5 linked regions of the Homo sapiens genome follow. The protein of the gene in region 5 purifies or fractionates together with the protein of the main gene of each other region. This does not show direct contact. Each region holds a gene or a part of one and is shown on either strand. Other genes may lie near its edges. The genes, in order: SPTB, TBCEL, ARHGAP19, SLC17A5 and RASA3.

Region 1 (5,461 bases), on a different chromosome or scaffold from region 5:
AAGCGGCTCGGGCTAGCCCACCTGTTATCAGTTTGATTCCCTCACCAAACATGCCAGTTGACATGAGCCCTATTTGTCTTTTTTTGTGTTTTGTTTTGTTTTGTTTTGTTTAGACAGAGTCTCACTCTGTCACCCCGGCTGGAGTGAACTGGCTCAATTTTGGCTCACTGCAACCTCCGCCTCCCAGATTCAAGTGATTCTCCTGCCTCAGCCTCCTGAGTAGCTGGGATTACAGGCACGTGCCACCACGCCTGGCTAATTTTTTTTTTTTTTTTTGCATTTTTAGTAGAAATGGGGTTTCACCTTGTTGGTCAGGCTGGTCTCGAACTCCTGACCGCATGATCCGCCTGCCTCAGCCTCCCAAAGTGCTGGGATTACAGGTGTGAGCCACCACGCCCGGCCGACATGAGCCCTATTTGTAAAATTTGTTCCTTTAAAAAGTTTAGTATACTTGGCACATCTCATCAAAACAGAAAACAATCACTGAAACAAAACCCTGTTCATTCCTTCACAGTTCTTTAGTGAGAATCAAATACACTGATGGATGTAGAAATATTGTAAAAAGTTAATTTTTTACTGTTGGTCTTAAGACGTAATAGTTCTATAAGTGTACTTCAAGGTAAGATCAGAATTATAGGCACAGATTTATGTGTAAGAATGTTCATCACATTGCTATTTAAATTATGGGCACATTTTCCAGTATTATAAGGTTCATCAATAAAGGGATTGTGAAAGTCTTCCACATAGCTATTCAAAATTATTTTAAGAAATATTTGAGGATAGGGGCCGGGCGTGGTGGCTCAGGACTGTAATCCCAGCACCTTGGGAGGCTGAGGTGGGTGGATCGCCTGAGGTCAGGAGTTTGAGACCAGCCTGGCCAACGTGGTGAAACCCTGTCCCTACTAAAAATACAAAAATTAGCTGGGTGTGGTGGCTTGCGCCTGTAGTCCCAGCTACTCGGGAGGCTGAGGCAAGAAAATCGCTTGAACCTGGGAGGCGGAGGTTGCAGTGAGCTGAGACTGCACCACTGCATTCTAGCCTGAGTGACAGAGGCTCTGTCTAAAAATATGTATATTATATATAAATATTATATATTATATATATTATGTATAATATATAAATGTTATATACTATAAATGTTATATATTATATAATATATAATTGCTACATATATAATATATAACATAATGTATAATATATAATGTATTATATATAATGTATAAAATATACATTATATGATGTATAAAATATGTATTATATAGTATATGATATATAATGTAATATACATATTTTATATATTTATATATTTCATATAAATATATATTATACATAATAGGTATATATGTTATATAATAAATATGTAAATATTATATAAATTATATAATAAAAGTATATATAAATATATATTACATATATACTTTTTTTTTGAGACTAAGTCTCGTCTCTGTCACCCAGGCTGAAGTGCAGTGGCTCAATCTCGGCTCACTACAAGCTTCGCCTCCCGGGTTCAAGCGATTCTCCTGTCTCAGCCTCCTGAGTAGCTGAGACTGCAGGCATGCGCCACCAAGCCCGGCTAATTTTTGTATTTTTAGTAGAGATGGGGTTTTACCACGTTTGCCAGGCTGGTCTTGAACTCCTGACCTCAGGCGGTCCGCCCGCCTCGGCCTCCCAAAGTGCTGGGATTACAAGTGTTAGCCATCTTGCCTGGCAAAAAAAGAAATATTTGAGGATATGGAGAAATACTCATGATTTAGTGTTATGCTTAGAAACACGATATAAAATTGAATATATCCATAACCCAGTTTTAGCTATCTGTGACTAGTAAAAAAAAAAATGCGAAAATGTGAAGACTAGAAGGAATACATAAAATGTTAATAATAGCTAATTTTTTGTAATGAAATTACATGCAGATGATTTTTTAACAATAAAACATGTTACTATGTATCAGAACAAACATGGTGTAATTTTTTTTAATGGTGAAGCTATAGGAATTGACTCTAGAGATACCATATCAGGATGTGGGTGACCTGCCTGTCTGCATCTTTGCAGGTCCTGGAACAACCTGTACTGTGTGCTCAGGAACAGTGAGCTAACCTTCTACAAGGATGCCAAGAACCTGGCCCTGGGGATGCCCTACCATGGGGAGGAACCCCTGGCCCTGAGACATGCCATCTGTGAGATTGCTGCCAACTACAAGAAGAAGAAGCACGTCTTTAAGCTGAGGTGAGGCCTTCCTGGCCTTTGAAAGCTCGGGTTGATGGCTTGATTTGGCATTAGTGGCAGGGCAGAGGCCCTCTGTAGGGGACCAGTGCCAGGCCTGAGCTGCTCCTCAGGGGTTTTTCAAATCAAAGAGGCTGATGGTCCAGACTTTGACCTCTCAGAAAGTGCTGGGCTGCCTGAGAGGGGTCTGGATGTTCGGCTCAGGGTATTGTGGGATCAGAGCCAGCCCTCTGCCCAGCGCCCCCTCCAGAGGTGTCTCCATGACAGGAAACCCTTTGTCCTCCTAGGCTGAGTAATGGCAGCGAGTGGCTCTTCCATGGCAAGGATGAGGTAAGCGCGGGCAGCCTAGCCCAGACCTGGCTAAGAAGGGGGTAGGTGGAGGACCCCAGGCCGCTTGCCCTGGAGGCCCCCTCAGAAGGGGCAGTCCCAAGAGCCCCCACCATTGTTGCCTGGCCCGGGAGGTGGGGGGCTGTGGGCCTCCAGACTCCACCGTGACCCTCCGCCCCGCAGGAGGAGATGCTGTCCTGGCTGCAGGGCGTGAGCACCGCCATCAACGAGTCCCAGAGCATCCGCGTCAAGGCGCAGAGCCTGCCCCTGCCTTCCCTCTCCGGCCCCGACGCCAGCCTCGGCAAGAAAGACAAGGAGAAGAGATTCAGCTTCTTCCCCAAAAAGAAGTAGCAGGTGGGGCTGGCGGGCGCGGCGGAGTCGGGACGCGCAGAGACCGGGCAGCCCAGGCCTTGGCCTCCTCTCGCCGCCGCCCGCCGGTCGAATCGAGATGAGTCGAGTCGCGGGCCGGGCCCCCGGGCCCCACGCTGCACTGCAAAAGCTGCCTTCGCCCGCGTGTCCTGGGCCGACGCCCCCTCCATGCCCTCGCCCGCGCTGGCTCCGCTCCAGGGACAGGGGCTCCCAGCTCCTCTGGCGCCTTTGGGGCCTCCAGGCCTGGGGGCAGGAAACGGTTCTCTGAGGCACACGCCCTCCTCTCCCACCCTCCTCCTGAGCCGAGGGGGCACAGGCCCCTTACCCCCAACCAAAAAAAAAAAAAAAAAAGAGCTGGAGAAGGCTGATGGGGTTCTTCAAACGCTGCCCGTTCCTAAAGCAAGTCTTGCTTCGGGTCACCTCCCACCTGGTGGCAGCCAGGGAAAGGGGAAAGGAAGAAGACACTGGAAATGCATGGCCAGCCCCCTAGGGGCATGAGGAAGGAGCCTTCAGGTGGCCCACAAAGCCCTAGCTCTGGGCCAGGGGCTCTGGGGGGCTGAGGGGACCAGACTGGGTGCAGGGCCTTGGGAGCTGCCAGCCTCCTTCCCACTGGGCTTCCGCAGAACTGGGACTCTCACTTCAGGGGCCACCACATCCCTCCTCTCTGCTTCTCCCCCCAGATCAAAGGGTACCCTCCCACGGTTGGCAGGGCCTGGCTGAGTGCCTCTAGCACCCTTTGTGCCACCACAGGCGGTCCCAGGAAGGGCAGCAAGGTCAGACCATTCCTCATTGAAAACCGTGGCTAGGGCACAGGGCTCTGATCTGAAGGAGTGACAGGTGCGTCACAACACTGCCTAAGGCTCTCCCTCTCAATGCTGGGACCCTCGCCCCACTCCCAGTGGCAGCCAAACCAGCAATATCCAACAGACATAGGCCCCCTACGGGACAGTGTGGGCCCCCAGATATAAGATGGATACCCCCCGCACCTGCAGTAAAGCATCCCAAAGCCAAATGCTCAATTGCATCCTGTCTGCAGCTGGGACTTTGGAGGGTAATGGCTGGGCAGACAGTAAAGTTGATCATCTGTTTTCTCGGGGTGGCAGACGCAGCCATGTCTTGGTATCACCACCCATGTGACAGCTACTCCTGCACAACTGGGACAAATGTCAGGGCCAGAGCCATGAAGGTGTGGTACCCCTTGATCAGCTTCTCCACGTCCTGGCCCCAGGTCTTGGCGGGGAGGGGGTCACATGAGTACAGAGGTCAAATATCTACCACCCTCCAGCCCTGAGCACCAGAAGCTCTGCAACCAACGTCCCCAGGAATGGCCTTCCCCTTGCTGCTCAGGTCATACTTCTGGAGGAAGAGAAAGCTCATTCCATATTTTCCCCACCACTCTACTCCGAAAGCAACACAGTTCTGGCCCAGTATCAAACTAGGGTTAGGTCCAAGAGAGCAGTCAAGCGGGTCGGGGGTGGGGGGGAGGGCGGAGGGCAGCAGGCATTTTCCCCCAAGGAAACCATGAAAGTCCCCAGGGCCTGCAGTCAAGTTTCTATCACCTTCCCCGTGAGAAGGACCTTAGTTCCATGGAGATGAAGTGGGTGAGGTTCAGGTAGAAGCCACAGGGGCAGGCATCCAGAATGAGGCCCCCTGAGGAACCCTGAGTGCTGACCAGTGCCGGCAGAAATCAGTTCCACCCTGTGGCCCTGACACTATATGTCAGGGTGACACCAACTGCAGCAGGCAGGAGCCACAGGAAGGAAGACGTCATCCGATGGAGCCTGACATCCCCAGGTTCCCGCCCTGGTGAGCAAGGTCTTCATTTGGCTTTGGTACATATGACCCTATACAGGGAACCTAGTGTGTATCACTCACCAGCCTCTTTCTGTATCTGGGGAAACCAAGGCAGTGAGGTGACTGCACTCACCTAGCAATAAAGTAGGCCTTTGGTGCACTTGCAGGCATGTCCTCCTCTGGGGCAGAGAGCAGGTTCCTTGCTGAAGGGCAGATGGTGGCAAACATCTCCCTCAACTGTTTCCCTGGGCCAGTCTTTAGGGAGCCTAGGGACAAGGGCCCACCCTCCCCCTTCCACGTGTGCCAAATCAGCACCTGAAGTGAGGCATTTCCAGCAAGCAACTCCACAGACCCGAGAAAGGAAGGGCTCTAGTGGAAGAGCTAGCATCTCACCACCCCAGGTCCCCTGGCCTGGTCCAGGGCAGCCAGCTGCATGTGACCATTCTGTTGCCAGCTCCCCACACATCCCTCCTGTCACCCAGGCTCCAAGACATTCGACCAACTAGACTGAAAATGCAGGCATCCAGCTTTGGGAGACCCTGTGTGTGCCACACCAGGGCTAAGCTCTCCCAGTGCCCTAGCAAGGTCTTTTTTTTTTTTTCTCTCCTTATTCTACTCTACAGTCTTTTGACAGTATTCCCAAACGAGGTTGACACAGCTCCAGTCCACACCAGCATACCAGGCTTCCTTCCCAGGGCAGTTTAGAGGAAGCTCCTTCTGGGCAAGGTCAGGCGGTCCTCCTTCCCTCTCT
Region 2 (6,399 bases), on a different chromosome or scaffold from region 5:
GGCAACGTTTATCAAACCGTTACCATGTATAATAAACTATGCCTGATGCTATGAATTGATACTGAAAGAAATAGGATTACACAGTTCCACTACCCTTTATAATGTAATGGTAGAGATAGGATAACCACATAAGAAAAATACCTAACGTTCATTATAATTAAACAATATAAGCAAAAGTAAACCAGTAACTATAGTGAAGTAAATATGTCACCACTAATTGGAAGCAATTTGAAGCATTATCTGGCTAATATCAAACAGCCTTCTGAGAAGCTTTTCGGTGCTTGTTCCTGCTAGTTTCTTCTAGGAAAAAGTACGGGTGGTGATTTTTCAGCCTCTTCAGGGCTACTGGCTTCTCCCTTGTAATCTATAACCATGTTTGGGTCTTTCCTATTTTAAGATATAAAATCTTGACAGTTGCCTGGATTCCCTACTCTCTTATCATCCCATCTTCCTTCTCCACTCCCAGCAAAACTTCTCAAAATATTGGCTAAACACTCTACTGTCTGGCTGTTTTCTTTCTTTTTCTTCATGACTCTGTTTCCTCTGCCTGTCCCTTAAATATCAGTGACTATTGTCTTATTGTCCTTATTCATAAAATTTTATATATCGTAATGGTGTCCAAATCTTCATCTTTAGCTCATTTTTCTCATTCAACTCCAGATTGTTTCCCTGGATGTTCCACAGGCACTTCAAATTGAACACGTATAAAGTGGAATTCATCATTTTCTTCTGTAAAACTGGCTCTGTTCCTGCTTTCTTGTTAGTTAATGGTATCACCAGTCACCTGGTCACCTGAACTAGAAACCCTGGGAGTCATTTTTGACTTTACCTTCTCCCTCAGCCCCTGTAATTTCTGAATAGCTTGCTTTTTAACATGATCGTGAATCTGCCTCTGCTTTCTATTTATTCTACCAGTGAATCACTTCAAGCTCTCACGATCTCTCTGCTGTATTTTTGCAGTATCTTCCTAACTCTTCTCCCAGCCTTCAGTCTTGTTTCCTGCATATTCATCAGCTCCATGATTCTCAGGATGAGTTTTCCCTAAAACTTCGTTGTTGTATTCCCTTCCTTAAAACCTTTCAGTTTTTTCCGTTTCCTGTAGGATAACATTAAACCTCCTAATGTGGTATACAAGATCTCCTCTGAGGCTCCTAGTTAGATGCTCCTGACAATGTCTACCATTGCCAGGCTGCTTTGGCAACATCAGATATTTTGTGCTTACTCATATATACCATAATACATTTTGACTACAGTTCCTTTTCTTATGATATCCCTTCTTCTCTGAGTACTCCAGAGCCTGTATATCCTTCTCCCTACTGATTATTTTAGTAAAAAAGCCTGATACCTAATAGTTGAAATTACAGAGGTCAATTTTAGCTGCCTATATTTTGATTAATATGCATCATAGGCCAGCCCCTTAAGTAATGAGTTATCAGGTTGTTAGAAGTTAGCGTGTTGTTTAATATTACCTGTTTTAATGTATGCATGAGTCCTTCTCAGTACTCATCGTCTCAGATGCTGGAATCATTCAGTGTTTGGACCCTTAGCTGATGCTAAACAGAAAGGACTCTACCCAAACTCAGAACCAAAAGAGATGACATTTTGTATTATTTAGGATTAGGTCCAGTTATAGGTAACTAAAAAATTGAGAAGAACAATGGCTTAAGCAAAATAGGTTACTTATCTGTCATTGAAATTTCCAGAGATATGTACCAGTATGGCAGCTCAGTTACATGAAGTCCTCAGGGATGCAGAGCCCTTTCAGCAATTCGTCCCACTTTTCTTAGTGTATATTCCTTGGGTTCATTGTCTGGTGGCATCAGTTTTCTAGGCAACAGATGGAGGAAGAAACAAAGGAGGGCAAGTGGCACACTCTGGTCATCTTTTAACGATGATTCTTAGAAGCTGCCACAGAATACTTGGTTTCTAGCCCATGAGCTAGAACTTAGCCAGCACTCATTCCCAAATACAGTTATCCAGTTATCCAGTTAAAGGTTCTTTTACTATGGAAGAAGATAATGGATTTTAGGGACAGATATTAAAGGATTCATCCAAACTGTTTAGCCTGATGTTCAATCTGTACCTTCTTTTTCAGACCTTTCTTCAATTACTTATCCACATGAATCCTATGTACCAGCCAAAAGCCTTCTCATTGCCCTTGGTTGGAAGTGATCAACTCCTCTTCTAAATCTTGTAATAGTTTTCATCTGTATTGCAGATATATGCTCAACTGTTATTGCTGTCATTTGTATATGTAGCTTCCCTAAATTGTAAGCTGTCACCACAGTATATGTTTCTGGGGTCAGTAACTAAGTATCATATGTCTTGCAATGCCTAGTCTAGTACTTTATACATAATGGGTTTTCAATAAATACTTCTTATGTGAGTAAATACATAATTACATAATTTGATTATTTCTTGGTTTCTTGTAGCATTTTAAGAAAGAAAGATGGATCAACCTAGTGGAAGAAGTTTCATGCAAGTATTATGTGAAAAATATAGTCCTGAAAATTTTCCTTATCGCCGTGGCCCGGGGATGGGAGTCCATGTCCCAGCCACACCTCAGGGCTCTCCTATGAAAGGTAAGAAAGATGGGACCTAAAACACTTATTTAGTGGAGCTTACTTAGGATGTTAAATCACAGTGTTGCCTTGTTTGCAAATGATTTATTTTATTTTTAATTACAGTCAAATAGTCTTTCCCCCTTGTTATGATTTCAGTTTTCTAAAGAACGTAACAGGACTGGTTTTCCTCCAGATTGATTAAGAGATGTTTTAGTTGCATGTGTATGACAGGAATAATATTTGAGTGATAATATTTCAAATGCATATTCTTTTATGGAACATAGAGGGTACAAAACAGTACAGGACTGGCCTGTGCCCTCCAGGACCTCATAGCCTAATTGGTTTACAAGACATTCACATTTACAAAGGTAAATAAACACAAGACAATTTATGTTGAGCCAAATGAATGGTATAGTGATTTGGAAAGAAATTTAAAAGATAATTAATATGATCAAGAAATGATTCAAAGCTGTGAGATTTTAACTAGTTCTTCAAGAATGTAGAATTTGGTTAGAGATGAGATACATTCTAGGAGAGGGATTAGATGTGAGCAAAAATCTGTAACTAGAAGTGTGCAAGGTATATTTTTGCTTGTCTTTTAGCTTAATGTTGCCATTAACAGTTCTTGGAAGTAGTTTTTTGTAATTGTGGGGGATTAATATTGAGTCACTGTTTTAGTTCTTACTTTCAAAGGTTACTGAGTGTTTGCTGTTTCTAAATACAATAATTTTATCTCTATGTAACCTGGAATGGCAGAGAGAAGTGGATTTCTTACTTGGTAATTTTTTTTTTCCGGGATCCATTCCCACTGTGATAAATATGTTGCTGAAAGTAGCAAGTTGAAAACCATGTAATTTGAGGTCTCCATTAATAAAGTACTACCTTGATGAGTCCTTGTTTTATACCAAATGGGAAAAGAGTGGTTGCATTCTCATGTTTATCCTTTTTAGTAGAGATTGTAAGAGTGATTTTATTGACACATGTGTTTTTGAACCAGGCAGTAGTCAAAAAGTTGTTACCTCAGTTTGACCAAATTCAATGTTAATAGTTTAAGACTGAAACACTTTCTTCCATTACAGTTAAATTTTTAAAGAAGGCTAATTTTCATAAGGGACAAATTCTGTAGGGATATGAAATGGAGATAATTGATAGACAAGAGAGAGAGATGTAGAGTTCTGAATGGATCCACTTAAGTGAGGAAGATTTCTTGAATGATGTAAACTTAACAGAAGTGATTTAGTAGATTAATGGTTTGAGATGATTTTCAGAGGCACAAAAGATAAAGATACACATCAGATAGAGAGAAAAGAGCCATCCAGAATACTTTGGAACTAAATTTCAAAAAGAAAGAATTGAGGCCTATAAGAAAGTACTGGTAGTCCACACATGAATTTCATGGATCTCTTGTTCAGATGATAAGATGATAGCGTGGATGAGGGCTCTGTTGTTGGTAATTGAGATAAACAATCCTGCTATGAGTTAAAGCCTAGAGGACTTTTTTTGGTGGTACGGGTGCAGTACTTCTGAACTCCTCCTGGGCAATAACTGGCTGTCTCCTCTTAGGATTCAGTACCCTTTGGTCCCATTATATCCTGTATTTTCTAGATCCTTATGTAATTTCACACAGTTTGATTTTTGTTTCTTGACACTTCCTGGGGGCTGAACATATGTAGACAAGAATTTGGCTGATATAGAAAACATTTTGTGTCTCTCATCATTCAGATCGCCTCAACCTCCCAAGTGTACTAGTGTTGAACAGCTGTGGAATAACCTGTGCAGGAGATGAAAAAGAAATTGCTGCTTTCTGCGCTCATGTGTCGGAACTAGATCTTTCTGACAACAAACTCGAAGACTGGCATGAGGTGAAGTTTTTATATTGCTACATTTTAGTGAAAAGCAGCAATAACCATTGTGTCATTGTTTATGTTATTATATGTTCTGCTAAATTCTGTTCTCACTTGATGTCTGTATGACTTCTTGTTGTCTGTATATCTTATTGTCTGTATGTCTTTATATCAAGATAAATAAGGCCTATAATCCCAGTGCTAAGGAGGCTGAGGCAGGAGGATCACTTGAGCCCAGGAATTCAAGACCAGTCTGGGCAACATAGCAAGAACCCATCTTTAATTTAAAAAAAAAAAAAAAAAAAAAAGGCAAATAACTGACTCTATCTATGGTGATTTTTCGTTAGCTTTGTTATTGTTATTGTTGCTTTGTTATTGTTAATTTATTTTTCATTGTTCATTTGTTTTCATCAATCACTAAGGAAATTTAGGCATCAAGAGGTTGATTAGTCTTTGTCAGCTTAAACTGCTAACAGTGCATTAAATTTTCTACTGTTTCACTAATTTATACATCTTATGCTCATTCTCTACTTCTACTTCAATATTTATTACTGAAAATTGACATAAAATTGTTGAAACTGAGAATATATATAAATATATTTATTCTTGTTATTGAAATTTATTCAAATATTTTACAACTTTTCTTATATTATCAAATCCCTTGGGTGGTTTGACATAACTGATGTCTTGACCTCAGAGTAACTATAAACTACACACATAGTTTGTAAAAGTACACAAATACAGTTTTGTAACATTCTCTTATTATTATATGTAACATTACCTACCTGCTTATAACATTACCTGATAGGAGCTACCCTGAAGAAGAAGGTTAAAATGTTCTTCCTACTTGGTTCATTCTTCTGCCTTAATTTGGGCTCTTATTTTTTGATTTGACTTTAGGAAGACTTTCCTAATGGGTTTTCCTGGATCCAGCTTTATTCTGTTTCTGCTAAGCTGTCTTCCGTAGTGCTACCACAGACTCCTTTTAATATATGACTCATGATTATGACACTGTCCTGCATAAAGGCCTACAGTTGCCTTTCTTTGCCTAGAAACTAAAGTCTGACTCTATAAGCATGACCCTTCATCATATGGCCCTTTGCTATTTCTAGAACTTTTTCTCCCTCTTTAGCCATATACTTTTACTTGCAGCTCATGATAAACTCAAAATAAAAAGCTTCCTTGCTTTTATTCATTCTGAACCCACTGCTCTCTTTCTTTTCTTGTCTACCTGGCCACTTCCTATTTATCCTTCAAGACTTGGCCCAAGTTGCTATTCCTCTGTGAAATTTTCCCTGGCTGTCTCACAGACAGAGTCAGATTATCGCAGAGCACCTACACTATACCACTGTGAAAGGATTTATCACAGTCTTGTATAATGACTTGCTTACTTGACAGTTTTCCTAATAGACTATGAGCTTATTCCAAGTGGAGATTTTTATCTTTTTTTTATCATAAGCCCAGCATACCAAGTAGTCAAATATTTGTTGAGTGCGTTAATGATTAAATGATTATATCTTAAGGATTAATCAAGACCTCTTGTTCCAACTTTTCCTGTGATCTTAAGAAATTTACTTAATCCTTTAGAGCTTTAGTTTGCTTATCCATAAGGTAGGCTTGCCGATAAAATTAATCATTGAAACACTTAGTAGATATTGAATGCTATACAAATCCTAAGACAGATTTCTTGTTTAAGAAAAACCTATCCATAACCTAGTTTTGGTAAGCTTTTCTTAAATTTCTCTATTTTATGCCCTTGTTAAATCTGGTAACTGTGTTCGTGGTTATATTTCCTACTTTTATTAGGATTTTAACCAAAATTCTTTGCAATGCATGTCACCTATTTCTAAGTGATTTATTAACATATGCAAATTTATAGGGCTATTCTAAAAAATAATTTCTATTTGTATATATATTTATTTACTTATCTGAACAACTTGTATAGTTTACTGTTTAACAAATTACAGATTGTGCCTTCTTGGTCCTCTGCA
Region 3 (7,104 bases), on a different chromosome or scaffold from region 5:
ACCACCCTGGGCAACATGGCAAGACCCCGGTTTCTACAAAAAAACAAAACAACAACAACAACAAAAACACTAGCTGGGCATAGTGGCACGTGCCTGTAGTCCCAACTACTCAGGAGGCTGAGGAGGGAGGACCAGTTGAGCCCAGGAGGTTGAGGCTGCAGGGACCTGTGATCGTATCACTGCACTCCAGCCTGGGCAACAGAAGGAGCCCTGTGTTAAAAAAAAAAAAAAGAAAGAAAGAAAGAAAAGAAAAAGAAAAGAAAAGAAAATAAATTCAAACTACTCTTGCTATGGAATAGTATTTTATTTGTCCTCAGATTTTCACCAAAATTTAGAAATTTTTAAAGAACTGGATGAAGGATGATCTAATCAAATGTATCAATCACCTCTACAGTTCCCGGGCAAAAAAAAAAAATGATCAACCATTTATAGGCAGCTTCAAGAGTGGAAAACTCGGGCAACCCCCTTTGGGTCCCCTCCCTTTGTATGGGAACTCTGTTTTCACTCTATTTCACTCTATTAAATCTTGCAACTGCACTCTTCTGGTCTATGTTTGTTATGGCTGGAGCTGAGCTTTTGCTCGCCCTCTACCACTGCTGTTTGCCGCTGTCGCAGACCCGCCGCTGACTCCCATCCCGCTGCTGACTCCCATCCCTCCGGATCTGGCAGGGTGTCTGCTGTGCTCCTGATCCAGTGAGACTCCCATTGCCACTCCCGATCGTGCTAAAGGCTTGCCATTGTTCCTGCATGGCTAAGTGCCTGGGTTCGTCCTAATCAAGTTGAACACCAGTCACTGGGTTCCACGGTTCTCTTCCGTGACCCACAGCTTCTAATAGAGCTGTAACACTCACCCCATGGCCCAAGATTCCATTCCTTGGAATCGGTGAGGCTGAGAACCCCAGGTCAGAGAACACTAGGCTTGCCACCATCCTGGAAGCGGCCCGCCATCATCTTAGAAGCGGCTGGCCACCATCTTGGGAGCTCTGTGAGCAAGGACCCCCGGTAACATTTTGGTGACCACGAAGGGGCATCCAAAGCGTTTGTCTCTTCCAGAATTGAAACTGTAAAACTACAAATCATTCTTCAAATGGAGCCCCAGATGCAGTCTATGACTAAGATCCACCGCGGACCCCTGGAACAGCCTGCTAGCCCATGCTCCGATGTTAATGACATCGAAGGCAACCCTCCCGAGGAAATCTCAACTGCACAACCCCTACTACGCCCCAATTCAGCAGGAAGCAGTTAGGGCGGTCATCGGCCAATCTCCCCAACAGCACTTGGGTTTTCCTGTTGAGAAGGGGGACTGAGAGACAGGACTAGCTGGATTTCCTAGGCCAACTAAGAATCCCTGAGCCTAGCTGGGAATGTGACCGCATCCACCTTTAAACACGGGGCTTGCAACTTAGCTCACACCCAACCAATCAGAGAGCTCACTAAAATGCTAATTAGGCAAAAACAGGAGGTAAAGAAATAGCCAATCATCTCTTGCCTGAGAGCACAGCGGGAGGGACAAGGATCAGGATATAAACCCAGGCATTAGAGCCAGCAACGGCCACCCACTTTGGGTCCCCTCCCTTTGTGTGGGAGCTGTGTTTTCACTCTATTTCACTCTATGAAATCTTGCAACTGCAAAACAAAAACAAAACAAAACAAAAAAGAGTGGAAAACTCTTCCATATCATATTTTATTTTATTTATTTATTTGAGACATAGTCTTGCTCTGTCACCCAGGGTGGAATGCAATGGCGCATCTGGGCTCACTGCAACCTCCGCCTCAACCTCCTGAGTAGCTGGGACTACAGGCGCCCGCCACCACACCCGGCTAATTATTGTATTTTTAGTAGAGACGGGCTTTCATCATGTTCGCCAGGCTGGTCTCGAACTCCTGATCTCAGGTGATCCGCTCCCCTCGGCTTCCCAAAGTGCTGGGATTACAGGCGTAAGCCACCATGCCCGGCCCCGTATGATATTTTAAATAACACACTCAACCACGCTCATCTGGGCTCAGGAAGAAGCCGAGTCACAAAGTTATTAGTTTCCCAAGATTCTTGGAATCTCTTATTCGGTACAAATGGAACCAAAAGACGCCAAACCGAAGTATTTTACTGAGTTACACTGAGGCAACGTAAATAAACTCAATCTATTGAATTACACCAAAAACAAAATTGTAATCAATTAAGACAACTTAGGTCTCAAGGCTAAGGCAACACCACCTCGAAATTCTCTCCTGAAAACGCTAAATCTCGGTGTGGCTGTTTAGGAAAGAACATCCTGTGGAAATAAAGTCATGATGTCCTGGACTACAGATCCCTCTCCCATCTGCTCCTTAGCTGTTCTACTAGGAAGAAGAAAATCTATTGCGTAGAGTTGTCATTATCGGCTAAACTCAGTGCTAGCTTTAAATGGATTGTCTTATTCAATCTTGACACTTGGAAATAGGCATCCTCACGTCCCTTTGCAGATGAAGAAACTGAAGTCGAGAGAGGTTTAAAAACTGGCCCAAGGACTCAACACTGTTTCTAATTGACACTCAAATCCTTGCTCGGACCTGAACGCACAAAGTGCCTCGGAGAAGATGTGAAGCGCTGTGTGCAACAGTGAGGAATTCGCTAACCAGCCCTGGACTTCCGTTTCCTCGCCATCAAGAGGTGTCTCGGCGCCAAAGCGATCAGCGCTGCCACCCCCAGCTGGACGTCTGCAGCCAGCGCAGCGGGAGGAGCCCCCTCGGGCACCGGCAGGACCGAGCGGGGGGTTTGGCTGGAGTCCAGCGCCCAGGCCCGACCCCCGCGCCTCAGCCCCCGCAGGCGCGACGATGAGAAACGCCGTGGGAGAAAGAAACAAAGCCCGAACCGTGCGCCTCCGTGACCCAAGGCAAAGGCGGCAGGACTACCAGCCCAAGGCCGCGTTTCCCAGGAAACTGGACCAAACTCAGCTCACCTCCGGCCGGATTCGCGGGCTGGCACCTCCCCTTCACTCTGTGCCTCAGTCGCCATCTTCGTCAGCAAACTTCTTTCACCGCCCCACCTTACGTCCCGCCCCCACATATTTGGATTGGCTAATATGTTTTCACCTCTTCCGTGCGATTGGATGACTCGACCGCCCCTCCTCAACCTGAACCGTTTAATATATTATTGGTCTATTCAAATGACTAACCGTCATTGGTCGTTCCCAGCCCTGGCGGAAAAAGAGGGAGGGGCGGGGAAGAAGACCCAGCCCCGAGGCCTGCCGGGAGTTGTAGTTTCTCATTTTGATGAACCCTTCCGATTCCACAGACCTTTAGGTTCAAGTCAGAAATCACCAGCCTATGCTCAAATTTTGTCCTGATATGTAAATCAGGGAATTATAGAACTGTCAACTTTGAAAGTGACTCATCACTTTCTAAAATGCAAGACTCCGTACCCTATATCTCAGCATCACACAATATACCCAGATAACAAACCAACTCATGTACCCCCTAAATTTAAAATAAAAGTTGAAAATAAATAATTTTTTTTTACAATTTTTTTAATTTTTTTTTTCTGTTGAGACAGGGTTTCACCATGTTGCCCAGGCTGGTCTCGAACCCCTGAGCTCAAGCAATCCTCCTATGTCAGCCTCCCAAAGTGCTGGGATTACAGGCATGAGGCACTGCACCCAGCCATAAATTAATTCATTTAATTTAATGTAATTTAATGCAAGACTCGTTCTCTGTCTTGACCCAGAGATAAATCCCTCAAGTGCAGGCAGGGAGTGGCAACCTAGAAGTACTTGCTTTTAAACGTATAGTTCAAAGCCTTCTTTCTTCAGATACTCAGCATAGCCCTAGCCATAGGTCATTTCTTTCTTCCTTTATTTCTTTCTTTTTTTTTTTTTTTTGAGATAAGGTCTCCCTCTGTCTCCCATGCTGGAGCACAGTACAATATTGCAGCATACCAACACACAGGGCAAATTTTTGTACTTTTTGTAGAGATGGGGTTTCACCCTGTTGGCCAGGCTGGAGTCGGTCATTTCTGCTTCAATACATTCACTCCCTTCCAACTTCCCAGAGAACCCACAGAGTTTGCCTTGTGATATGAACCATGGAACCAAAAGCTGCATGACTTTGTCCCAAACTAAACTTTAATCCTCAATGGTAGGAATAACCATAATTATCCTTGTCCTCCCTGCGGCACACACTTCTCCTAGGGATTAACTGAGGCAACATATGTGAGAACATTGTAAATTTTGAGCATTGTTGTTTTTTGTTTTTCCATATTGTTTTCCTATGCTGGACTTTTCTCGGGAATTTCTGTATTGATCCTTCTGATATCCTGCCACCTGGGGCTCTCCCTGCACTCTGCCTCCTTTTTACTAAACTGTACTGCACATGCTTCACTTTCTGAACTGTCTTAGGGCTTTTGCACATGTTGCTTTTTCTGGCTCGTCCATTTTTCCACTTTTTTGGCTTTCAGGTCGAAGCTTAAATGTCACTGGCTCAAAGATCTTCCATGACCCCCATTGTATAAATCAATTCCCTCAGTAAACTTTCACAAAGAACTCTGTACTATTCTTTCACAGTTCATATCACAACTCACAATTACATAGTCATTTGTGTGACTATTTATTTCATGTGAGGGTTCCCAGCTAGGCTTCCTGCCACAAGTGGGCAGAGACTATATTTATTTTGCTCCCCACAGTTTCTGGCACATAATGGCTGTCCAATAAATATTTTTGAAAAATATAAGCAAGTCCTCAAACTATTATATCCAAATAAAAAATCAAATCATATACTCTAATAGATTTTTTTCAATTGATGAATTAATACTAAAAGTTTGATAAGGGCTAGGCACAGTGGCCTACACCCATAATCCCATCACTTTTGGAGGCTGAGGCAGGAGGATCACCTGGGCCCAGGAGTTCAAGGTTAAAGTGAGCTATGATTGTGCCACTGAACTCCAGGCTGTGCGACAGAATGAGACCCTTTCTCTAAAAAAGAAAATAAAAGTTTGATAAATGTGTCCAAATAAAATTGCATTTAGTTTGATGTTTTTTATGTTTTTTGTTTGAAACAGAGTCTCACTCTGTTGCCTAGGATGGAGTGTAGTGGCATGGTCTCCACTCACTGCAACCTCTGCCTCCCGAGTTCAAGCAATTCTCCAGCCTCAGACACTCAAGTAGCTGGGATTACAGGTGTGTGCCACCACATCTGGCTAATTTTTGTATTTGAGTAGAGATGGGTTTTGCCACGTTGGCCAGACTGGTCTCGAACTCCTGAACTCAAGTGATCTACCCACCTAGGCTTCCCAAAGTGCTGGGACTACAGGTGTGAGCCACCATGCCCAGTCTTATTTAGTTTGATGTTTAACAAATCATGTTTATTGAGCAAATACATGGAAAGAAACATAAAATTTAGCAAACGTATCAGTGAAATTTTTCATTGAACCTCAGACAGCCTTAGAAAATCCAGGCTGGGATCACTTGAGCCCAGGAGATTGAGACTACAGCAAGCCATGTTCATGCCACTGCACTCCACCCTGACAGAGCAAGACCCTGTCTCAAAAAAACAAAAAACAAAAAACAAAAAAAGAAAAAGAAGCCAAGTGTGATGGCTCACGCCTGTAATCCCAGCACTTTGGGAGGTCGAGGCAGGTAGATCACTTGAGGTCAGGAGTTCAAGACCAGCCTGACCAAAATGGTGAAATCCCATCTCTACTAAAAATACAAAAAAATAGCCGGGCATGGTGGCACACACCTGTAATCCCAGCTACTCAGGAGGCTGAGGCAGGAGAATCGCTTGAAACCAGGAAGTGGAGGTTACAGTGAGCCAAGATCATGTGCCACTGCACTCCAGCCTCGGCAACAGAGTGAGACTGTCTCAAAAAGAAAAGAAAAGAGAAAAAAAGGCCAGGCGAGGTGGCTCGCACCTGTAATCTCAGCACTTTGGGAGGCTGAGGCGGGTGGATCACCCGAGGTCAGGAGTTCCAGACTAGCCTGGCAACATGGTGAAACCCTGTCTCTACTAAAAATACAAAAATTAGCCGGGCGTGTTGCCACACACCTATAATCCCAGCTACTCGGGAGGCTGATGGAGGAGAATCACTTGAACCCAGGAGATGGAGGTTGCAGCGAGCCGAGATCGTGCAACTACACTCCAGCCTGGGCAATAGGTTGAGGCTATGTCTCAAAAAAAAAAAAAAAGAAAGAAAGAAAAGAAAATCCAGGTTGTGTTAATTGCTATATATACAAAGCAAGGAACCCAAGGCTCAAATTCTGCCCTTCCCTCAAAATAAGAACTAGTTTTGTTTCTAGCCCCATGACACCCAGCACATGGACTGATGGATTGAATGAAATTGATGCTTTCACAAAAGAAAAACTGTTCAAAACTTTAAAGTATTACCACTGCAACTAGGAGGAACGCCACAAAACTATATTTCTGGTTCATTTTTTTTAATGAAGAATCGCACCTTTTTTTTTTTTTTGAGACAGAGTCTCACTCTGTCACCCAGGCAAGAGTGCAGTGGCATGATCTCGGATCACTGCAACCTCCGCCTCCCAGGTTCAAGCAATTCTCCTGCCTCAGCCTCCCGAGTAGCTGGGACTACAAGCACCCACCACCACACCCGGCTAGTTTTTGTATTTATAGTAGAGACAGGGTTTTGCCATATTGGCCAGTCTGCTCTCGAACTCCTGACCTCAGGTGATCCACCCACCTCGGCCTCCCAAAGTGCTGGGATTACAGGCATGAGCCACCACACCTGGCCAAATCACATGTTTATATAATGTTTGGGAAAATACAGCACAGTAGTTACATGGGCTCTGGAGTTAATAAACCCAAGTTCAAATCCTGGCTCCAGAGCTCCTAGCTATGTGACCCTGGATAAGTTACTTAGCTTTCTGATTCCATTTCCTCTTCTGTAAAATGAGGATAATAAGTCTCACAAGGGTATGGTGAAGAGTAAAATAAGATAATTTCTGAGACTGGGCGCAGTGGCTCATGCCTGTAATCCCAGCACTTTGGGAGGCCGAGGCGGGCGGATCACCTGAGGTCGGGAGTTAGAGACCAGCCTGATTAACATGGAGAAACCCCGTCTCTACTAAAAATACAAAATTAGCCAGGTATGGTGGCACATGCCTGTAATCCCAGCTA
Region 4 (6,399 bases), on a different chromosome or scaffold from region 5:
ATATATCCGACAGATAGTGTTCCTACTTCTTCTCCACATCTACCATTTCTAATTCCTTAAGTGACACGGTACCTGTTACTATTTCCTCTCACTTAATAAAAAGGAATGTTGTAGAAATGCTTTTTCTAAAGTTCTGTGTCTCAATATGGACATGTCCAAAATGTTTAACCTTGTCCTCATGGAGCAGGGTGGCAACACCAGAACCTAAGTCAGCTCACTACCATGTGTTCATTTCACTTACTGATAATGCCAGCACTTCTGCTAGGGAAATATGGATTCCTGAATTACAGTCTTGTATGTTTACAAGTGGGAACTGCGCTTGATTTGGGATATGTTACAGCATTTGTTTAATGCTATTAAAAGGATATCACTGTTTTAGCTGGGTGTGGTTTGTACCTGTAGTCCCAGCTACTTAGGAGGCTGAGGCAGGTGGATGCATAAGCCCAGGGTTTTGAGGCTGCAGTGAGCTATGATCATGCCTCTGCACTCCAGCCTGGGTGAGAGCGGGAGACCCTGTCTCAAAAAAATAAAATAAATAAAAAATAAAAATAAAAAAATAAACAAAATAAAATAAGTTTCGCACTCCGTTGCCCAGTCTGGAGTACAGTGGTGCAGTCTCAGCTCACTGCAACCTCTGCCTCCCAAGTTCAAGCGATTCTCCTGCCTCAGCCTCCCAGGTAGCTGGAACTACAGGCACTCACCACCATGCCCTGCTAATTTTTGTTTTTTGTTTGTGTGTGTGTGTGTTTTTTGGTTTTTTTTTTTGAGACGGAGTTTCGCTCTTGTTGCCCAGGCTGGAGTACAATGGCGCAATCTCAGCTCACCACAACCTTTGCCTCCCGGGTTCCGGCGATTTTCCTGCCTCAGCCTCCCGAATAGCTGGGATTACAGGCATGTGCCACCACGCCCAGCTAATTTTGTATTTTTAATAGAGACGGAGCTTCTCCATGTTGGTCAGGCTGGTTTGGAACTCAGGTGATCCGCCCATCTCGGCCTCCCAAAGTGCTGGGATTACAGGAGTGAGCCACTGCACCCGGCCAAATAAAACTCTAAAGTATATTATTTTTAAAAAGGAAAAGCACACACTTACCTTCACAATTGTAATTTCTTTCTTCTTTTTGAGATGAAGTCTCACTCGTCCCCCAGGTTGGAGGGCAGTGGCGTGATCTCAGCTCACTGCAACCTCCGCCTCCCAGGTTCAAACAATTCTCCTGCCTCAGCCTCCCAAGTAGCTAGGACTACAGGCACGTGCCACCACACCCGGCTAATTTTTGAATTTTTAGTACAGATGGGGTTTCACCATGTTGGCCAGGCTGGTCTCGAACTTCTGACCTCAAATGATCCACCCGCCTCAGCCTCCCAAAGTGCTGGGATATCAGGCATGAGCCACCGCGCCCAGCCTGTAATTTCTTACTTTGAGCACTGCCTCAAAAACTTTGTGGAATGAGTCAGCATATAAATAAATAATGCAATAATTAAAATTCAAAGTGTGTCTGAGGTTCAATGTTGTTATAAACAAAACAGTATTCTCTAAAAACTGGTGGAATTTTTGTTAAAAAACAAACTAGGAGCTGTGTGAGACTTGTAGTACAACGATTGATTTTAAGTTCACTCATTGCCTTCAGATAACACTGAAGTATTATTTTGTCCCAGAGACCACACAGGGCAGCTTTGTCTTAGTAATCCTAAGAAGCTGTTTCAAACATTTCTTTCTGGTATAAGATGTAATTATTGACTGATTCCTCAGCAGAATTTAAGATGAGTATCTAAGATTTTTTTTCATTAAAATGCACTCATCTCAGACAAGTATAGCCACCACAGGGTGTTTCTTTCTTCATGTTTCTCCTTTTTTCCCAAATAAATGACCTCATACTGGCTTCCCAGTGCCTTCTCTTTCACTTCCTCATTGCTAGTTCTACTGCTTGTTTGTTTGGGTTTTTTGTTTGTTTGTTTGTTTCTTTGTTTTTTGAGACAGGGTCTCCATCGCCCAGGCTAGAGTGCAGTGGCGCAATCATGGCTCACTGCAGCCTCAACCTCCCCAGGCTCAGGTGATCTTCCTACCTCAGCCCCCCAAGTAGCTGGGACTACAGATGTACACTACCATGTCCAGCTAATTTTCCTACTTCTTGTAAAGATGGGGTTTCACCACCTTGCCCAGGCTGGTCTCAAACTCCAGGGCTCAAGGTAGCCACCTACCTCGGCCTCCCAAAGTGCTGGGATTACAGGCATGAGCCGCCATGCCTGGCCTGCTTGGTTTTTTTTGTTTTGTTTTGTTTTGTTTTTGAGACGGAGTCTCACTCTGTTGCCCAGGCTGGAGTGCAGTGGCACGATCTTGGCTCACTGCAAACTCCGCCTCCCGGGTTCACGCCATTCTCCTGCCTCAGCCTCCCAAGTAGCTGGGATTACAGGTGCCCACCACCACGCCTGGCTAATTTTTTGTCTTTTTAGTAGAGACGGGGTTTCACCTTGTTAGCCAGGACAGTCTCCATCTCCTGACCTCGTGATCCGCCCACCATGGCCTCCCAAAGTGCTAGGATTACAGGCGTAAGCCACCACGCCTGGCCTGGTTTATTTATTTATTTATTTTTGAGACGGAGTTTCACTCTTGTTCCCCAGGCTGGAGTGCAATGGCATGATCTCAGCTCACTGCAACCTCCGCCTCCCAGGTTCAAGCAATTCTCCTGCCTCAGCCTCCCGAGTAGCTGGGATTACAGGAGCCTGCCACCACGCCCAGCTAATTTTTGTATTTTTAGTAGGGACAGGGTCTCGCCATGTTGGCCAGGCTGGTCTTGAACTCCTGACCTCGGGTGATCCACCCACCTCAGCCTCCCAAAGTGCTGGGATTACAAGCATGAGCCACCACGCCCAACCAGTTTTGTTTTGTTTTGTTTTTGAGAGGGAGTCTTGCTCTGTTGCCCAAGCTGGAGTGCAGTGGAGCGATCTCAGCCTCACTGCAAGCTCCACCTCCCAGGTTCACGCCATTCTCCTGCCTCAGCCTCCCGAGTAGCTGGGACTACAGGCACCAGCCACCACGCCCGGCTAATTTTTTATTTTTTTAGTAAAGACGGGGTTTCACCATGTTAGCCAGGATGGTCTCGATCTCCTGACCTCATGATCCGCCCGCCTCGGCCTCCCAAAGTGCTGGGATTACAGGCGTGATCCACCACGCCCGGCCGTGTGTTTCTTAGTTAATGCTGCAAATGTAGTCACCACTCTGGTTAGACTGAAATTGAAAAAATCCAAAAAATGGTTGTTAAAGGTAGTCACATGACCCAGAAATTTAGATAACTGTCTGATATTTTTATGCCACAGGGTTATACACTGAACAGTTGTCTTACTGACAGATCCCATGTTATATCCTGCTTTGTATGCCATTCAAGATCTTTTATACTTGCCAGGCCTCTCTCTGATGTCACAGATCCTCAAAGCTGAACTTGAGTTCATCTTAACAGTATTTACTTGATCCACCTGACACCTTTCACCTGAGAACCCAGGAGACCGTGCACAGGCATAAGACTTTCTTAGTGTTAGTTAGTGTTAGGCATGATTCAGGGACATGCCAGTACACTTTTTATTGAAGTATATCTATCTATCTTCAGTAAACTTTTTATTGAAGTATAACTTTTTTTAAATGCACAAATCCAGGCCAGGCGTGGTGGCTCACACCTGTAGTACCATCACTGCGGGAGGCTGAGGCGAGTGGATCACTTGAGCCCAGGAGTTCAAGACCAGCCTGGGAAACATGGCGAAACCCCATCTCTACCAAAAATATATATATATATGTATATGTATATATATACGTATATATATATATATGTATATGTATATATATACGTATATATATACATATATATACACACACAAAGAAAATTAGCCAGGCATGGTAGCATGCACCTCTAATCCCAGCTCCTTGGAAGGCTGAGTTGGGAGGATTGCCTCAGCCCAGAAAGTGGAGGCTGCAGTGAGCCGAGATTGCGCCACTGCACTCCAGCCCGGGTGACAGAGTGAGACTCTGTCTCAAAAATAAAAACAAAAATAAATAAATGCACTAATCTAAAGTGTGCAGCTAGATGAATTTCCACAAAGTTAATACATCTGTGTAACCAGCACCCAATCAAGAAACAGAATATTACCTCCCTCAGTAAGACCCCAGGTACCATTTCCTCCTATTTTTCCTTCACCCTCACCAAGTGGAACCACTCTCCCAACTTTTAACCCCATAGATTAGTATGGTCTGACTTTGGGCTTTATATAAATGGAATAATTTAGTATGTACCTTTTTTGTCTGGCTTCTTTTGCTTCATATTTTGTTTGTGAGCTGTATTTATGATGTTGTAGCCCATTCTCATTGCTGTATTGTATTACGTTGAACAAATATACCACTATCCTACTGCTGGTGGACATTTGGGTTGTTTCAAGGATGAGGCTTTTATGAATAATGTGGCTGTTTTAACACTCTTGTGACACTATCTTTTTAATGAAGTGAACTACACACAAAATTTTATTTCACTTGCATTTTTTGTCTTCCTTTATAGAACACTGTTGGAGAATGGCAAACCGTGTTCTATATTGCTGCTGCTATTAATGTTTTTGGTGCCATTTTCTTTACACTATTCGCCAAAGGTGAAGTACAAAACTGGGCTCTCAATGATCACCATGGACACAGACACTGAAGGAACCAATAAATAATCCTGCCTCTATTAATGTATTTTTATTTATCATGTAACCTCAAAGTGCCTTCTGTATTGTGTAAGCATTCTATGTCTTTTTTTAATTGTACTTGTATTAGATTTTTAAGGCCTATAATCATGAAATATCACTAGTTGCCAGAATAATAAAATGAACTGTGTTTAATTATGAATAATATGTAAGCTAGGACTTCTACTTTAGGTTCACATACCTGCCTGCTAGTCGGGCAACATGAAGTAGGACAGTTCTGTTGATTTTTTAGGGCCATACTAAAGGGAATGAGCTGAAACAGACCTCCTGATACCTTTGCTTAATTAAACTAGATGATAATTCTCAGGTACTGATAAACACCTGTTGTTGTTCACTTTCCTCATAAAAATTGTCAGCTCTCTCTGACACTTAGACCTCAAACTTTAGCATCTCTGTGGAGCTGCCATCCACTGTATAATTTCGCCTGGCAACTGGACTGAGGGGAGTGTGCCCAGGCAGCTGCCAAGCACTCCCTCCCTGGCTTCAGGGTCAGAGTGCCCAGCGTTTATCAGAGGCAGCATCCAAGCCCAGAGCCAGTGTCGACTCTTCGGCTGGTGCCTTTCCTCTGAGGGGCTATCAATGTGTAGATAAAGCCCTGAGTAGGCAAGAGCAGTGAGATCCACTGCTATGGTCTTGATACATCCTCAAACTTTCCCTTCCCAGCACAGAGGAATATTGGCTGGCATGCAACCTGCAAAAGAAAAATGCGAAGCGGCCGGGCACGGTGGCTCATGCCTGTAATCCCAGCACTTTGGGGGGCTGAGGTGGGCGAATCATGAGATCAGGAGTTCGAGACCAGCCTGGCCAGCATGGTGAAACCCCATCTCTACTAAAAATACAAAAAATTAGCTGGGCGTGGTGACGGGCGCCTGTAATCCCAGATACTCAGGAGGCTGAGGTAGGAGAATCACTTGAACCTGGGAGGTGGAAGTTGCAGTGAACCAAGATCACGCCACTGCACTCCAGCCTGGGCGATGGAGCGAGACTCCAACTCAAAAAAAAAAAAAGAATAAAGAAAGAAAAGTGCGATGCCCAGTCAATCACAAATAAGATCATCCTGGTTTAAATCTACTCTCACATGGATCACAGTATAAATTTCTATGTGCTGTGTTTTGTTCGTTTGTATTTTGTAGAGATGGGGTCTCGTTTTGTCGCCCAGGCTGGTTTTGAACTCCTGGCTTCAAGCGATCCTCCTGTCTCGGCCTCACAAAGTGTTGAGACTACAGGCATGAGCCACTGTGCCCAGCCTGTTCTATGTTTTTAAGCTACACGAGAATTTTTTTTTTAATTAATTCTCACTGTTTGTTCAGTCTGTCTTCATCTAAGTTTGTGTTGCAGTTTAAAGTTAAAGTGACTTTTAAAGGCCACATCACCTGAGACTAGGGTAATCATCTTTACTTCTGGTTCCTGAAATCATATTTTTCCAGTGGACCATCCTCCAGTGGCTGTGGTTGTTGAGCATGCTTTCAGAACACCTATGTGGCTTAAAACTTAGTTTATGTTTTGTGTTCAACACTACGTGTAATATTTTAAAACTGTTTAATGTGATGTGAATACATTTATGTACATTTATTTTTAAATTTGTAAATAGCTTTAAATTGCTATGGCAATGTTTCTTTTATAAATCATCAAAATAAACCTTTGTGAATTGATTTTTGGATCTGACAGTTCTGTGATGTT
Region 5 (6,399 bases):
CCCCTAGGGACCTGGGCATCCAGCACCCAAACCCCACTTCTCAACCTTGCCGACCCTCAGGGAGGAGCTGGGTGCCTGCACCCACCCATCACCTGCGATACTCAAGACCCCGCCAGGACTCAGGCTATGTATGGGGCGCTGAGAGGCTCAGCGAGGGCCTTGCTGCCGGCTCCTCTCTTCCTTGCGTGTCCTGTGGCCTCGGGACAGCTGCAGACACCCCGGGGTGGCCATGGTCCTGCAGAGCCGTCCACGCTTCTGTGTCCCCAGGAGACAAACGCTGTCCCCACCCCTGATTCTCAGGACATCAGACAGTCAGACAGCGCCGGCCGAGGGGCCCAGGGTTCTGGGGGAGGCAGTTCCCAAGCACATCCCAGCCCCAGACCCACTTTGAACAAGGTGGAAGTGAAGAGATAAAACACATCCTCTCACCCAGATGAGCACAGACCACTGTGGAATGAGACACCAAAGGGGCTGCGCTGTGTGGTGGTGATGAGAGATGGAGAGAAACAGGGAGAGATGGAGAGAGAGGCAGAGACAGAAGGAGAGAGACAGAGAGAGACAAGGAGAGAGAGAGAGAGACAGGGAGAGACGGAGAGAGAGGCAGAGACAGACGGAGAGAGAGGCAGAGACAGACGGAGAGAGAGATAGAGACGGAGAGAGAGAGATGGAGAGAGACAGAGACAGACGGAGAGAGATGGAGAGAGAGATCGAGACGGAGAGAGAGAGAGAGAGACAGAGAGATAGAGACAGGGAGAGAGAGACGGAGAGAGAGAGACAGAGAAAGAGAGAAAAAGAGAGAGACAGAGATAGGGAGAGAGACAGGGAGAGAGACAGAGAGATGGAGAGAGAGACAGACGGAGAGAAAGAGACGGGGAGAGAGAGATGGAGTTAGGGAGAGAGACAGAGAGGGAGAGAGACAGAGAGATGGAGAGAGAGAGAGAGAGCCAGAGACAGACGGACGGAGAGAGAGAGGGGGAGAGAGAGAGAGAGACAGAGATAGGGAGAGAGACAGGGAGAGGGACAAAGAGGGAGAGAGACAAAGAGATGGAGAGAGAGAGAGACAGATGGAGGGGGGGAGAGAGCCAGAGACGGAGAGAGAGAGAGAGAGACAGAGATAGGGAGAGAGACAGAGGGACAAAGAGAGGGAGAGAGACAGAGAGATGAGAGAGAGACAAATAGAGGGAGAGAGAGAGAGACAGAGATACGGAGAGAGACAGGGAGAGAGACAAAGGGGGAGAGACAGAGAGATGGAGAGAGAGAGGGAAACAGAGAGAGGGAGAGAGGGAAACAGAGAGAGGGAGAGAGACAGACACAGGTGGAGATAGAGCCAGGACTGTGGCTGGACTTCCCTGCGGACCCTCAGGGGGCCGGGGCATGGTGTCCCCACGAGGCCATTGTGCCCGAGGAAAACGGTCACCCTGCTTCTCTCTCCCGCAGATGACCCGGACGTCAGGTACACTGCAGTGAGCAGCTTCATCTTCCTGAGGTTCTTTGCGCCCGCCATTCTCTCCCCCAACCTCTTCCAGCTCACGCCGCACCACACGGTGAGTGACCGGCTGAGGGACCGAGGCTTTCTGAGCTGTCCTGCGACGCCGGCCTGGGTTGGGGCATCTGCGTGGCTGTAGGGGGCCGACCGTGTGGAGTGTGGAATGCGTGGGGAGTGTGTGAGGAATCAGGAGTGAGTGGGGAGTGTGTGTGGAATGAGGAGTGAGTGGGGAGTGTGTGTGGAATGGGGAGTGTTTGTGGAATGAGGAGTGTGTGGAGTGCGTGGACTGCGTGGGGAGTGTGGAAGGCATGTGGAATGGGGAGTGTGTGTGGAATGAGGAGTGAGTGGGGAGTGTGTGTGGAATGGGGAGTGTTTGTGGAATGAGGAGTGTGTGGAGTGCGTGGACTGCGTGGGGAGTGTGGAAGGCATGTGGAATGGGGAGTGTGTGTGGAATGAGTGAGTGGGGAGTGTGTGTGGAATGGGGAGTGTGTGTGGAATGAGGAGTGTGTGGAGTGCGTGGACAGTGTGTGGGGAGTGTGGAAGGCGTGTGGAATGGGGAGTGTGTGTGGAATGAGGAGTGAGTGGGGAGTGTGCGTGGAATGAGGAGTGTGTGTGGAATGGGGAGTGTGTGTGGAATGCATGGGGAGTGTGCATGGAATGAGGAGTGTGTGTGGAATGCGTGGGGAGTGTGTGTAATGAGTGAGTGGGGAGTGCGTTTGGAATGGGGAGTGTGTGTGGACGGTGCATGGGGAGTGGGGAGTGTGGAAGACGTGTGGAATGGGGAGTGTGTGTGGAGTGTGTGGACGGTGCACGGGGAGTGTGGAAGGTGTGTGGAATGGGGAGTGCGTGTGGAGTGTGTGTGGAGTGTGTGGACGGTGCGTGGGGAGTGCTGGTGGATGCGCTGGGTCCTGGAACGTCCTCGTTGCAGGTGGTTCACCGACCTATTTAAGCTGTGTACGTTCTGGGGGAGTCGAGACAGTGTCACAAAAGCAGTGGACGGTTTGTCCAGGGTTTTAGCTGCTGGTCACCGCCCTGCTCTCCTCCCCTGCCCATCACATATGGAGTATTGATGATCGGCGTATCATCCGTGTATTGAGTCAACAGATTCCTATTTAGCACTGATTTTCTCCAGGCCCCAATGTGGTTGCTGGGGCCGCAGCTCTCAGGGTACAGGGATCTGGGGTGACCGTGTTGCACGTGCGGGTGGCAGAGCTGGAAGGAGATGGCCAGGGCGAGAGGACGTGAGGGATTGCCCATTCCCCAGCACTTCTTTTTTTTTGAGACAGAGTCTTGCTCTGTCACCAGGCTGGCGTGCAGTGGTACCATCTCAGCTCACTGCAACCTCTGCCTCCTGGGTTCAAGCAATTCTCGTGCGTCAGCCTCCCTAGTAGCTTGGATTACAGACGTGCGCCACCACGCCCAGCTAATTTTGTATTTTTATTAGAGATGGGGTTTTACCATGTTGGCCAGGCTGGTCTCGAACTCCTGACCTCAAGTGATCTACCTGCCTCGGCCTCCCGAAGTGCTGGGATTACAGGCGTGAGCCACCAAGCCCGGCCCCCAGCACTTCTGAGTTGAACCTTCAAACCCTGTGAAGGCTGAGATGAGCCCCAGGCAGGGCCAGGAGACTCAGCACCCCGAGACTCAGCGCCCCAGAGCCATGACCCCACCTGATGCTTTCGACTTTGAGATGCACCCTGCACGCTGGGCCGAGAGAGTGGGTCACCGCGGTGCCGTCGGATGTTGCCTGCGGGATGGTCTCAGCAGCTCCTGAGACTGTGGGACGCCCACCCCCTCCAGTCCCATCTGCGTCGCTACCCCTGTTTCTCCGTAGCTCATGCACAAGCCACAGCAGCTCTGAGGTGACTCCTGCATTTCGTCCCCTCGATCTGGGACAGTCACAGCATTTCTGTGATGCTGACATAGACCTTTCTTGCTCCCGCCTCCCCAGGACCCCCAGACGTCCAGGACGCTGACATTGATCTCCAAGACCGTTCAGACCCTCGGCAGCCTGTCCAAGTCCAAATCTGTGAGTCCCTCTTCTTCATTTTCTCTTTTTAGGGACAACTGATTCTTTTCTCTCTTCAGAAAATACACGTGAAAAACCTCCCACATTTGAGAGAGTCGTAAGATAAAGATCAAGAATCAAAGCCGGCACCACATCCTCTCTTGAAACCCAGGACCTGAGCGTCCCCGTCCCGCTCACCTCTCCCCTCCTAAAGTGAACCCCTTGCCTTTTTCGGGAGCCTGTGGCTCGTCGCCGGCCCCGTGGCAGGAGCAGCATCTGACCTGTCAGGTGTGGGAAGCGGCTGAACAGGCCAGGCAGATGGCCTAACCTGGCGCCTCCTGGGCGTTGCGGTGCTGGAGGCTCCTCGTCACGCAGCCCCCTACTCCCCTCGCGGCCCCCTCCTCCCCACGCGGCCCCCTCCTCCCCACCTCCCCACGCGGCCCCCTCCTCCTCACATGGCCCCCTCCTCCCCATGCTGCACTACCTCCCCATGCAGCCCCCTCCTCCCCACTTCCCTCCCCACGCAGCCGCCTCCTCCCCACGTGGCGCTTCCTCCCCAAGCGGCCGCCTCCTCCCAACGTGGCGCTCCCCTCCCCACGCGGCCCCCTCCTCCCAGGGCCCCTCTCTCCCTGTGGATATGAACCTCCGTCCTCCATCCTCGTCCCTTCAGACTGGATCTGGTGCCACCAGGTCAGGAGTCCCTCAGGCATCTGCCCCATTTCCCCCTAAGAGCACCTTGTGTGTTTGAGGGGGTCAGAGCTGACGTTTGAGGCGTCCCGGGGGCAGTGCTCCTGGTGAGGCCCAAGGCTGTCTCTGCAGGGGCCAGGCCAGGGCAGTTCGATGCCTTCGGGCCCCCTCGGGGCTCCGTCTGGAGAGGGCTGGGCTGTGGTGCACAGATGCCCAGGCCTCCTGGTTCCCTGTTCTTGGTGGGGCCCAGGTAGAAATGAGGGCTTTGGGGAGCAGAGGCCCCCACTGGAGGAGCAGCCCGCTTGGGGCAAACGTTGGGTTTCTCTGAGTCCGAGTGAGTAAAAGATGTGCCACACTCGCAGGCAGGCCGAGGTGCACCGACCGCTCTTTCCCACCAGCCAGGCCCTGCGCTGTGGGCTGGAAACTCCATAACAGGCACTTGAGCCTCCTCCGAGGTCTGCACCAAACCCACCTCATTTCACAGCCAGGGAACTGTGCAGTGACCTCAGTGTGGAAACAACAGGAACTTGGGGTCGAGCCTCAGGAATGGTGGCTGCAAAGGCCCCCCCGAATCCCTGGGTGCCTCCACTTCCCCGTGTGATGGAGGTCCCTGCCCCCTCTTCCCACCTCAGAGCGGCCCTTATGCCCCACGGGCGAGAGATGGGCGTGGGGGCTCTGGGACCCTGGCCTATGACTCCAGGTTCCCAGGCAGCCACATCTGGGCCCCAACGTACCTCTTCATGAGCCTGGGACCCAGGTGTGAGGGACAGCCCGGGGCCAGGACGGAGTCACTGATGCCAAAGGGTGCTTGGAGACCTCACGGGCACTGGCAGGTCTGATGGTCTTCGTTGGCGCCTGAGCGATTTATGTGATTCGTCCTCCGGGCAGCCCTGCGGGCTCTCACTTGCCCGGTAACACCGGGTTCTTTGCCTGTTTATCGTCATTTAGGCTTGGACAGTTCTTGCCTCTAGCTTTTTCAGATTTGGGCCGTGAGCCGAGGTACTTCGGGCTGTCCTCGAGTGATCTCCGTTTCATTTTAGGCGAGTTTTAAGGAGTCCTACATGGCTACATTTTATGAATTCTTCAATGAGCAGAAATATGCTGATGCGGTGAAGAACGTAAGTATCGACTCACCCTCCGACCGCCCGTGTGCCGTGCTCAGGAGACGGAGTTCTCTTTTAAAATTGAGATAGAACCCACATGACACAGACTTGGCCATTAGCGATTTTAAACAATAAAGGCGTTCGGTGCATTCACAGCGCTGTCCAGACAGCCTTGTCCCAAGTCCTGGGACACCTCCTCCCACAGTTGGTAAACTCTTTGGCGTGACTGCCTTTGGGGCCAAAACGGGGCCCTCGCCCATCTTGTTCTGTGTCTGAGCCCCCCGAATGAGGGCGCGTCCCACCTCAGTGTGTGTGGTGGCCGGACTCACTCTAGGCTGCAGTCGTGGAGCCCTGGGGCTGCAGACTCAGTGTCAGGAACGCGGTGCGTGGGGAACATCCAGACCGCAGGGCTCTGCTCCTCCCCACAGTTAGGAACGCGGTGCGTGGGGAACATCCAGACCGCAGGGCTCTGCTCCTCCCCACAGTCAGGAACGCAGTGCGTGGGGAACATCCAGACCACAGGGCTCTGCTCCTCCCCACAGTCAGGAACGCGGTGCGTGGGGAACGTCCAGACCGCAGGGCTCTGCTCCTCCCCACAGTCAGGAACGCGGTGCGTGGGGAACGTCCAGACCGCAGGGCTCTGCTCCTCCCCACAGTCAGGAACGCGGTGCGTGGGGAACGTCCAGACCGCAGGGCTCTGCTCCTCCCCACAGTCAGGAACGCGGTGCGTGGGGAACGTCCAGACCGCAGGGCTCTGCTCCTCCCCACAGTCAGGAACGCGGTGCGTGGGGAACGTCCAGACCGCAGGGCTCTGCTCCTCCCCACAGTCAGGAACGCGGTGCGTGGGGGGAATATCCAGGCCCCAGGGCTCTGCTCCTCCCCACAGTCAGGAACGCGGTGCGTGGGGGCAACCTCCAGGCCCCAGGGCTCTGCTCCTCCCCACAGTCAGGAACGCGGTGCGTGGGGAACGTCCAGACCGCAGGGCTCTGCTCCTCCCCACAGTCAGGAACGCGGTGCGTGGGGAACGTCCAGACCGCAGGGCTCTGCTCCTCCCCACGGTCAGGAACGCGGTGTGTGGGGAACATCCAGACCGCAGGGCTCTGCTCCTCCCCACG

What was found.
Region 1: the proteins of RASA3 (region 5) and SPTB fractionate together in Homo sapiens (co-fractionation; one large-scale study listed by BioGRID). This does not show direct contact.
Region 2: the proteins of RASA3 (region 5) and TBCEL fractionate together in Homo sapiens (co-fractionation; one large-scale study listed by BioGRID). This does not show direct contact.
Region 3: the proteins of RASA3 (region 5) and ARHGAP19 fractionate together in Homo sapiens (co-fractionation; one large-scale study listed by BioGRID). This does not show direct contact.
Region 4: the proteins of RASA3 (region 5) and SLC17A5 fractionate together in Homo sapiens (co-fractionation; one large-scale study listed by BioGRID). This does not show direct contact.

What each region holds. Positions count from the first base shown.
Region 1 is NC_000014.9:64,746,743-64,752,203, reverse strand, and holds part of SPTB (spectrin beta chain, erythrocytic), read left to right. Parts: intron 1-1,954; exon of another isoform or gene 1,955-2,049; coding exon 2,050-2,223; exon of another isoform or gene 2,224-2,507; coding exon 2,508-2,550; exon of another isoform or gene 2,551-2,730; coding exon 2,731-2,898; 3' UTR 2,899-5,461.
Region 2 is NC_000011.10:121,043,242-121,049,640, forward strand, and holds part of TBCEL (tubulin-specific chaperone cofactor E-like protein), read left to right. Parts: intron 1-2,432; 5' UTR 2,433-2,449; coding exon 2,450-2,582; intron 2,583-4,286; coding exon 4,287-4,426; intron 4,427-6,399. Other genes in the region: TBCEL-TECTA protein, read left to right, coding at 2,450-2,582, 4,287-4,426. UniProt on the Homo sapiens protein: Acts as a regulator of tubulin stability.
Region 3 is NC_000010.11:97,289,636-97,296,739, forward strand, and holds the start of ARHGAP19 (rho GTPase-activating protein 19), read right to left. Parts: upstream 3,003-7,104; 5' UTR 2,993-3,002; coding exon 2,937-2,992; intron 1-2,936. UniProt on the Homo sapiens protein: GTPase activator for the Rho-type GTPases by converting them to an inactive GDP-bound state.
Region 4 is NC_000006.12:73,593,351-73,599,749, reverse strand, and holds the end of SLC17A5 (sialin), read left to right. Parts: intron 1-793; coding exon of another isoform or gene 794-891; intron 892-4,535; coding exon 4,536-4,673; coding exon of another isoform or gene 4,674-4,689; 3' UTR 4,690-6,371; downstream 6,372-6,399. UniProt on the Homo sapiens protein: Multifunctional anion transporter that operates via two distinct transport mechanisms, namely proton-coupled anion cotransport and membrane potential-dependent anion transport.
Region 5 is NC_000013.11:114,008,287-114,014,685, reverse strand, and holds part of RASA3 (ras GTPase-activating protein 3), read left to right. Parts: intron 1-1,437; coding exon 1,438-1,544; intron 1,545-3,437; coding exon 3,438-3,515; intron 3,516-3,574; coding exon of another isoform or gene 3,575-3,616; exon of another isoform or gene 3,617-4,031; intron 4,032-5,221; coding exon 5,222-5,299; intron 5,300-6,399.